Linked DNA regions of Homo sapiens. The protein of the gene in region 1 interacts with the protein of each later gene in a pairwise test. Each region holds a gene or a part of one and is shown in the gene's direction. Other genes may lie near its edges.

Evidence for each region. The genes of interacting proteins can lie anywhere in the genome.
Region 2: the proteins of MID2 (region 1) and SHFL interact in binary tests that used the Homo sapiens proteins (3 or more experiments, as listed by UniProt).

Annotation. Positions count from the first base shown.
Region 1 is NC_000023.11:107,823,678-107,827,426, forward strand, and holds the start of MID2 (probable E3 ubiquitin-protein ligase MID2), read left to right. Parts: upstream 1-2,188; 5' UTR 2,189-2,749; coding exon 2,750-2,753; intron 2,754-3,749. UniProt on the Homo sapiens protein: E3 ubiquitin ligase that plays a role in microtubule stabilization. Mediates the 'Lys-48'-linked polyubiquitination of LRRK2 to drive its localization to microtubules and its proteasomal degradation in neurons.
Region 2 is NC_000019.10:10,089,317-10,093,065, forward strand, and holds part of SHFL (shiftless antiviral inhibitor of ribosomal frameshifting protein), read left to right. Parts: coding exon of another isoform or gene 1-62; intron 63-162; coding exon of another isoform or gene 163-173; exon of another isoform or gene 174-334; intron 335-340; coding exon 341-379; intron 380-581; coding exon 582-731; intron 732-1,933; coding exon 1,934-2,037; exon of another isoform or gene 2,038-2,159; coding exon 2,160-2,314; intron 2,315-2,753; coding exon 2,754-2,986; 3' UTR 2,987-3,272; coding exon of another isoform or gene 3,273-3,463; 3' UTR 3,464-3,749. Other genes in the region: ANGPTL6 (angiopoietin-related protein 6), read right to left, coding at 3,273-3,463.

The DNA of each region.
Region 1 (3,749 bases):
TGAACAACTCTTTCCTTTTCCCTCCTCGCAGTCCCTGACAACCAGCATTCTACTTTCTGTTTCTATGAGTTGACTATTTTAGACAGTCATATAAGTAGAATCATGGAATATTTGTCTTTTTGTGACTGGCTTATTTCACTTAGCATAATGTCCTCAAGGTTCATCAACTTTGTAACATGTGACAGGATTTCCTTCTTTTTTTGAAACTGAATAATATGCCCTTGTGTATATATACCATATTTTCTTTATCTATTCATCTCTTGATGGACATTAAATTTGCTTCTGCCTCTTGAATGATGCTGCTGTAAGCGTGGGTTTGCCAGTATCTTTTTGAGATCCTGTTTTCTATTTGCTTGGATATATATCTAGAAGTAAGATTGTTTAATCATATAGTAGTTCTATTTTTAATTTTTTGAGGAACCTCCATACTATTTTCCATAGCAGCTACACCAGTTTACATTCCCTTGCATAGTGGCTGTACCTTTTTACAATAGTGTGCAAGGGTTCCAATCTCTCCACAACCTTAACACTTATTATTTTCTGTTCTAATTTTATTTTTTGTAGAGACACGTTCTATTCATGTTACCCAGGCTGATCTCTAACTGCTGGTCTCAAGTGACTCTCTTGCCTCAGCATCCCCTCCTGAGTAGCTGGGATTACAAGTGTGAACCACACCTTGCCGTATTTTCCTGTGTGTTTGTTTTGTGTGTGTGTGTGTGTGTGTGTGTGTGTGTGTGTGACCATCCTAATGGATGTGAAGTGATATTTCATTGGGGTTTGATTTGCATTTCCCTAACAATTAGTGATGTGGATCATCTTTGCATATGCCTGTTGGCCACTTGTATATCTTCGTTGGAGAAATGTCTATTCAAGTCTTTTGTCCACTTTTAAGAGTTTTTTTTTTAATTGAGCTATAGAAGTTCTTTATACATTCTGGATATTAGCACATTATCCGATATATGGTTTGCAAATATTTTCTATCATTTTGTAGGTTGCTTTTTCACTCTGTTGATTGTGTCCTTTCCTGTGCAGATGTTTGAAAGTTTTATGGTCCCATTTACCTATTTTTGCTTTTGTTGCCTGTGCTTTAAGTGTGACTCACTAACTTTTACTTCTCTTAGGGGCCAGACTTTCATCAGGAGAGCCTGGTTGTGACTTTTGTCTTGGTTTCCACCTCAGTGCTCTCTAGCACATTGTTTAACAGGAGTGTTGACTGATTACTATTGGTTCCCTGAAGGGATATACCAAGAGATACCTCAATTTTTCTGGACTTGTTCCTATGCACAATGATGGGAGGCGTGTGTGTGTGTGTGCTGGGGTGAGTCTTCCCATTTTCTCATTTCTTTCCCCTTCTTCTCCCTTTTTGCCCCAAGTTAGAAACAGAGTCTCTTATGGGGCTTCCTGCTCTTTCCCTCTCCCATCCACCTTTTGAGTCGGGTGGTGGTCTCTGAGCCAATGACAGGTCAGCAAACAGGCTGATTCCAGACCAATGGGAGGATGCTGGATTCCAAATGGACCAATTAGCTTATTAGGGACCTGGAATAGCTGGATAGCTAGCATCTGCCTCATTGTCCATGTGGTAACGACCCTCTTGTTTTACTGGTCAACAATTTGAAGGTACAAGAAAAATCCTACTTTTTTTTTTCTTTTGATGGTTTTAATCCACCTCCACAACTTCTGCCCGAGGCCAATAAAACACAGCCATTCTTTTTTTGTAAAAAGAAAGAGAGGTTCGGTTTCCTTCAATTGTCTGCCCTTTTCTATCTCCTCCACTATTTTTGTTTTACTCTGTAGTTAACTTTGCATAGAGCAGCTTCATAGGGAGGATCTCTGCGGTGGACCCGGCTCTCTCTTCTTATTACCCGTTGCAAAGGCCTCTTTCTTGTTCTAACCTGGGGGTTTGTGGGGTTGGGGGACAGGGGGATTGGGGAGTGGGAGAAGAGTTTAGCCATAGCCTTCCTTCTGCATTTCACACACATTTAGCTATCTCTGTCGCTCTGTCACACACACACACACGCACATACACACCATACACACACACACGCACACCCGTCCGGGTCCCTCTCGGTGTGTCTTCCTTCAAGATGACAGGGCGCTGGAGAAAAGGCTGCTGGAATCAGCTGGTAGGTACAGTAGTAACCCGAGCCCCACCCACCGGCTGCCTTTGCTTGCTCAGGTTTCTCCGGTCACTCCTGCCAGGGGAGAAGACATGTAAACGTGCCTCCAGAGGAAGGGCTGGGGGAGCTGGGAGTGGCGGGGGCGGCGGAAGGTGAGCCTGGGAAGGTGGCCGAGCACCCCTTCTTCTTGGGCCCTTCCCAGTGCTCCCTTGGGGTGTCAGCCCCAGCCCCGTTTGCCCCCACTCCGCCTCCCTTTTGGAAGGGATTGCCTTTTTTTTCCTCTGCGGCGGCGGAAATGACAGTGTGGTGCTGCCGTGGTGTCATGGTGCTGCCCCTGGACTGAGGGGCGAAAACTCTTAAGTTTAGCTCGGGAGGCCCAGCTGCGGTAGCATCGCGGCCGCCGTGCTGTCCCCTGCGGGGCGCGCGGGCTGGCGGATCCCGGCTGCTGCGCGGCGTCGGCGACGGTAGCGGCAGCGGCGGCGAAGGCGGGCGGCGGCCTACAGTGGTAGCGGCGGCGGCGGCGACCGGGGCCCGGGAGCTCGCGCCGGAGCCCGAGCCAACCCGCTGCGGAGGCAGACGAGAGCCCAGCGCCCTCGAGCGAGCGGAGGAGATGGCTGGCACCTGGGAACGCTATGGGTAAAACGCGCCCCCTCGCCGCGGCCCTGGAGGTCGAGCGTCGTAGCCCTCGCAGGGCTAGTCTCCGGCTCCGGCCGCTTTTCAGGTGCCGCCGGGGCCCGGCGTTGGCCGAGGGCTCTCCGGCTCGGCGAGGCAGGGTGATGGGGCCCGCGAGGCTCGAAACGGCGACGGGGGCCCCAGCTCAGCTCCGGCTCTCAGTCATGCTGTTGGGGCCCGGGTTCCTGCCACTGCCCTCCTGGGACGGAGTTTGCACTCCGGGGTGCGGGGCGGGGGCGGCCGAGGCCTCTGCGCAGCCTGGCCGGGCCCGGCGCGGGCAGTCGAGCGAATCCCCCGGCGCCTGGGCGCGAGTCTGGGAAAGGGCACGGCCGCCTTCCCACGCTCCCGCAGCCGGCAGCCTCCTCGGCCCAGGCGTCGCCCCTTGGCCGGCCGTCTGCCGGGCGGTGCTGTCGCAGCAGCCGGCGTGGCTGCGGACGCCCTGCCGGCGGGGAGGCCCGGTGAAACTTAATCCCTTTTCTGCCAGGGAGCGATCCTCGAGTCTCCGTCTGGATGGTTCCTTATTTCTGGCCTAGCTGTGAAATCAGCTCTGTGGGGGAGAGGGAAAACTTACATATGTCCACAGGACAGACTGCGACGCAACCAGGGAGAGTGGGGATTTTCCATTCCTGCCTTGTAAGAATTAAGTAAATAACGGCGGAGTAGATTTACAGAAACATTACTGGTGATGATAAGGTTTAGGTTACTTAGCACTTCGTGTGTTGCACATTATTTTTCAGAGGTGTTTCTTCTTAGAGCAGGAAATTGAAATCCTGCAGTCGTTGTACTCTTTACTTTCTCTCTTCCACGGTCCCCTACCCGTTTTCAGGATCACTCACCTTCCTATGTCACAACGCTTACTTGCCTACCCAAATCCCCCAGCAGAGCCCCTTGGACCCCAGCCTTTCCCCATCAACGTGTGCACTCCCAGCCTCCCAGCCATGCAGCATCTTACTTCTCAAC
Region 2 (3,749 bases), on another chromosome or scaffold:
CGTGGCCTCAAAGGGGCGATATGTCACAACATCAACAAGCATGTGGCATTTGCAGGCAGGAAGTGAGTATGGGGGTCAGGCTAGCCTCACTCAGGCAAGCCCTCCCCTAAGCCTCAGTTTCCCCATCTGAGCAATAAGGTAACAGGTGTGCCCACCTCTCAGGGCTGCTATGAGGACAACTGAGGCCACACACCTGGCTCTCAATAAGTGAGTGGTGCTCTGTGAGCTTCTGGCGAGTTAGGGGCACCCTACTCATTGCGGCCGGGGGCCTCCCCCAGCAAACGGGTGGAAAGAGGCCTGAGCCCCATCCCCAGTTTCTGCCCCTGCTATCTCCACCCAGGATCCACCAGAAGATATGAAGCAGGACCGGGACATTCAGGTGAGTTGGTGGCTAGGGCTTGGGATGGGGGAGTTGGGAGGGGGACATCTGCAGGCACAGAAGGATGTCCATTAGGGCAGGAGGGGAGATATTCACTGGGGCAGGAAGAGGACTCGTCTGTAGGGAGAGGAGGGCTGATGCTTATGTTGGTGCAGAAGGGGTGACACCCCCCCACCTCATCCCCACCTGCCCCATTCCACAGGCAGTGGCGACCTCCCTCCTGCCACTGACAGAAGCCAACCTACGCATGTTTCAACGTGCCCAGGACGACCTTATCCCTGCTGTGGACCGGCAGTTTGCCTGCTCCTCCTGCGACCACGTCTGGTGGCGCCGCGTGCCCCAGCGGAAGGAGGTGATGACCTAAAACTTAACCTCGACTTTGACTGTCCCGAACTCCACTCCTGACTCCTATCCTCAGTGACTGTACCTCTGACCTAAGGATTTCAATCACTGAGAGTCCAATCCCTGACCTCCAAACTCAGAGCTCAGCCTTGATCTCTGATCCCAACCCCTGACCCAGGACTGGACTTCTGACCTTAAATGTGAGAAGCCCAATACCTCCTTACCCCAGAACCTGACCCTTGACCCACAATTGAACAGCTACTACAGAAATCAAACCTGGCCAGGCGCAGTGGCTCATGGCTGCAATCTCAGTGTTTTGGGAGGCTAAGTAGGGAGGATCGCTTGAATTTAGGAGTTTGAGACCAGCCTGGGTGACAGGGTGAGACCCTGTCTCCAAAAAAAAATGTGTTTTGAAGACAGGGGGTCTCGCCCTGTCACCCAGGCTGGAGTGCAGTGGCGGGATCATAGCTCACTGCAGCCTCCACCTCCTGGCCTCAGGTGATCCTCCCACCTCAACCTCCCAAGCAGCTGGGACTACAGGCCTGCGCCACCACACTTGGCTAATTTTTGTATTTTGTGTGTGTGTGTGGAGATGGGGTTTTGCCATGTTGCCCAAGCTGGTCTCAAACTCCTGGGCTCAAGCAATCTACCACCTCAGCCTCCCAAAGTGCTGGGATTACAGGCATGAGCCACTGTGCCTGGCAAAAAAAAATTTTTTTAATTAGCTGGGAGTGGTGGTGTGTGCCTGTGGTCCCAACTACTCAGGAGGCTGAGGTGGGAGGATCGTTTGAGCCTGGGAGGTCGAGGCTGCAGTAAGCCATGATCACAACACTGCATTCCAGCCTGGGTGACAGAGCAAGACTCTGTCTCTAAAAAAAAAAAGAAAGAAAGAAAAGAAACCAAATCTGACCTCAAAAACACAGCCCCAAATCTGGCTTCTGAACCTCCTGACTAGTAGTTCACTTCTGGTCAATGCTTAACTAGTTCTTGCAAAAGAGGCAGGAAGCCAAGATGTGTAGTGTTTGCCAATTTCTGTGGTGTAAATATTCCCACCATGGTCAATATCAGGCTACCCACGTGAAGTCACTGATTGAGTTGGGTTGCTCAAGCTGAGGCCAGCCGCTGCAGCACACTGCTAGCCCTGACCCCAACCTCAGACACCTCTGACAATCCTTGGTCCCCTCTCTGTACCTTCCTGCCCACCACCACCAGGTATCCCGGTGCCGGAAATGCCGGAAGCGCTACGAGCCAGTGCCAGCTGACAAGATGTGGGGCCTGGCTGAGTTCCACTGCCCGAAGTGTCGGCACAACTTCCGGTGAGGGCGCTGACCCCCAGCTCCCCCTCAGCCCTGCCCTACCCCAGCCCTGCCCCTCCCTGCCCTGGCCCCACCCTGGCCCAGCCTCGCCCTCGGACCCTCACAGCCCTGCCCGCCCCCAGGGGCTGGGCACAGATGGGGTCCCCGTCCCCCTGCTACGGGTGCGGCTTCCCCGTGTATCCAACACGGATCCTCCCCCCGCGCTGGGACCGGGACCCGGATCGCCGCAGCACCCACACTCACTCCTGCTCAGCTGCCGACTGCTACAACCGGCGAGGTGAGGCTCTTCTCCCCCAACAGCCTGGACAGTCTTTGTCCCCTTCTGTGCCTTTAAGTCCCCAAATCTCCACTCAGTCCACTTTGTCTCCCACAGCAGCAGCCACTGCTTCCACATGGCCTCCATGACCCCCCAGTCTCCGTGGTCTTGCCCAGGAGGCTCTGAGGTTTCACCCCAGTGGCCCGTGCCTGAGGGTCCCCATGGCCTCTGCCCCCATGGTCTCTGGGTTTGGGGCCCCTGTTTTGTCCCCTGTAATCTCAGGTGACCCCCATGTCCCCAGGTCTCCTGTATCTTCAACACCCCTGAATGTCCAGTTGTGCTGGTCCCCGTATCTGGTGGTCTCAGCTCCTCCCTAGAGCCCCGCGTGGCCTAAGTCCCCTCCTCCCCAGACTCTCATGGGACCTCCAGCCCCATGTCTGCAGCACCTCTCCCTCCCTAGAGCCCCACGTGCCTGGGACATCCTGTGCTCACCCCAAGAGCCGGAAGCAGAACCACCTGCCCAAAGTGCTCCACCCCAGCAACCCTCACATTAGCAGTGGCTCCACTGTGGCCACCTGCTTGAGCCAGGGTGGCCTCCTGGAAGACCTGGACAACCTCATCCTGGAGGACCTGAAGGAGGAGGAGGAGGAAGAGGAGGAGGTGGAGGACGAGGAGGGCGGGCCCAGGGAGTGACCCCTGCCAGGTGCAGATACAAACCAGACACGGTCTGTGGCTACTTTGTGTTATTATAAGATATGAGCTCAAACCGAGATATGAATGACCTTGGGGAGCCATCTGAGGCCAAGATATTGACGGGGGGGATTCCTGGGTCCCATTTTCAGCGCCCAGGGTCACAGATCCACAGTGGGAAGTTCTGTGGGACACATTGGCACTGAGCCACAAAGAAGGTGTGGCCAGAACAACTTGGGCTCCTGCTGACCAATGTCCTCTAGGGCCTAGGGGACAGAGGAACACAGAGTCACAGCTTCAGGGGCCGAATGAGCATGGCGGCCTTCCTGAGAGAATATGCCCCACCACGAAACTCAGCCCAGTAGACACCATCCTGGTAGCGGCTTCGGTAGTGGCCGCCGTGGTGCCACACACCGTTGAGGTTGGAGTGGGCACAGGCATGGTACCACCAGCCTCCCCGCTGGTACAGGGCACAGTTACCTGAGGGGAGAGAGAGAGTCCATGTCCTCTCACCAGAATAAAAGCCTCTACCTGCACCTCACAGTGCAAGGCTTTTGCCAGGCATCCCCTGGCCCCTCCCATTCTTATTGAATACAAGCCCTGATCTTCCATCTCCTCAGCAAAAAAATAGGAGCCCTGGCCCCCCAACTTTCTTCAGAGTAATAGCCTTAATTCCTTCCCTATCTCCTTACCAAAGTACAAGTCACATCTTTCCCACCTTTTCTGCAAACTAGGAGTCTACCGTTCATTCCTTTATCAAAGAAAA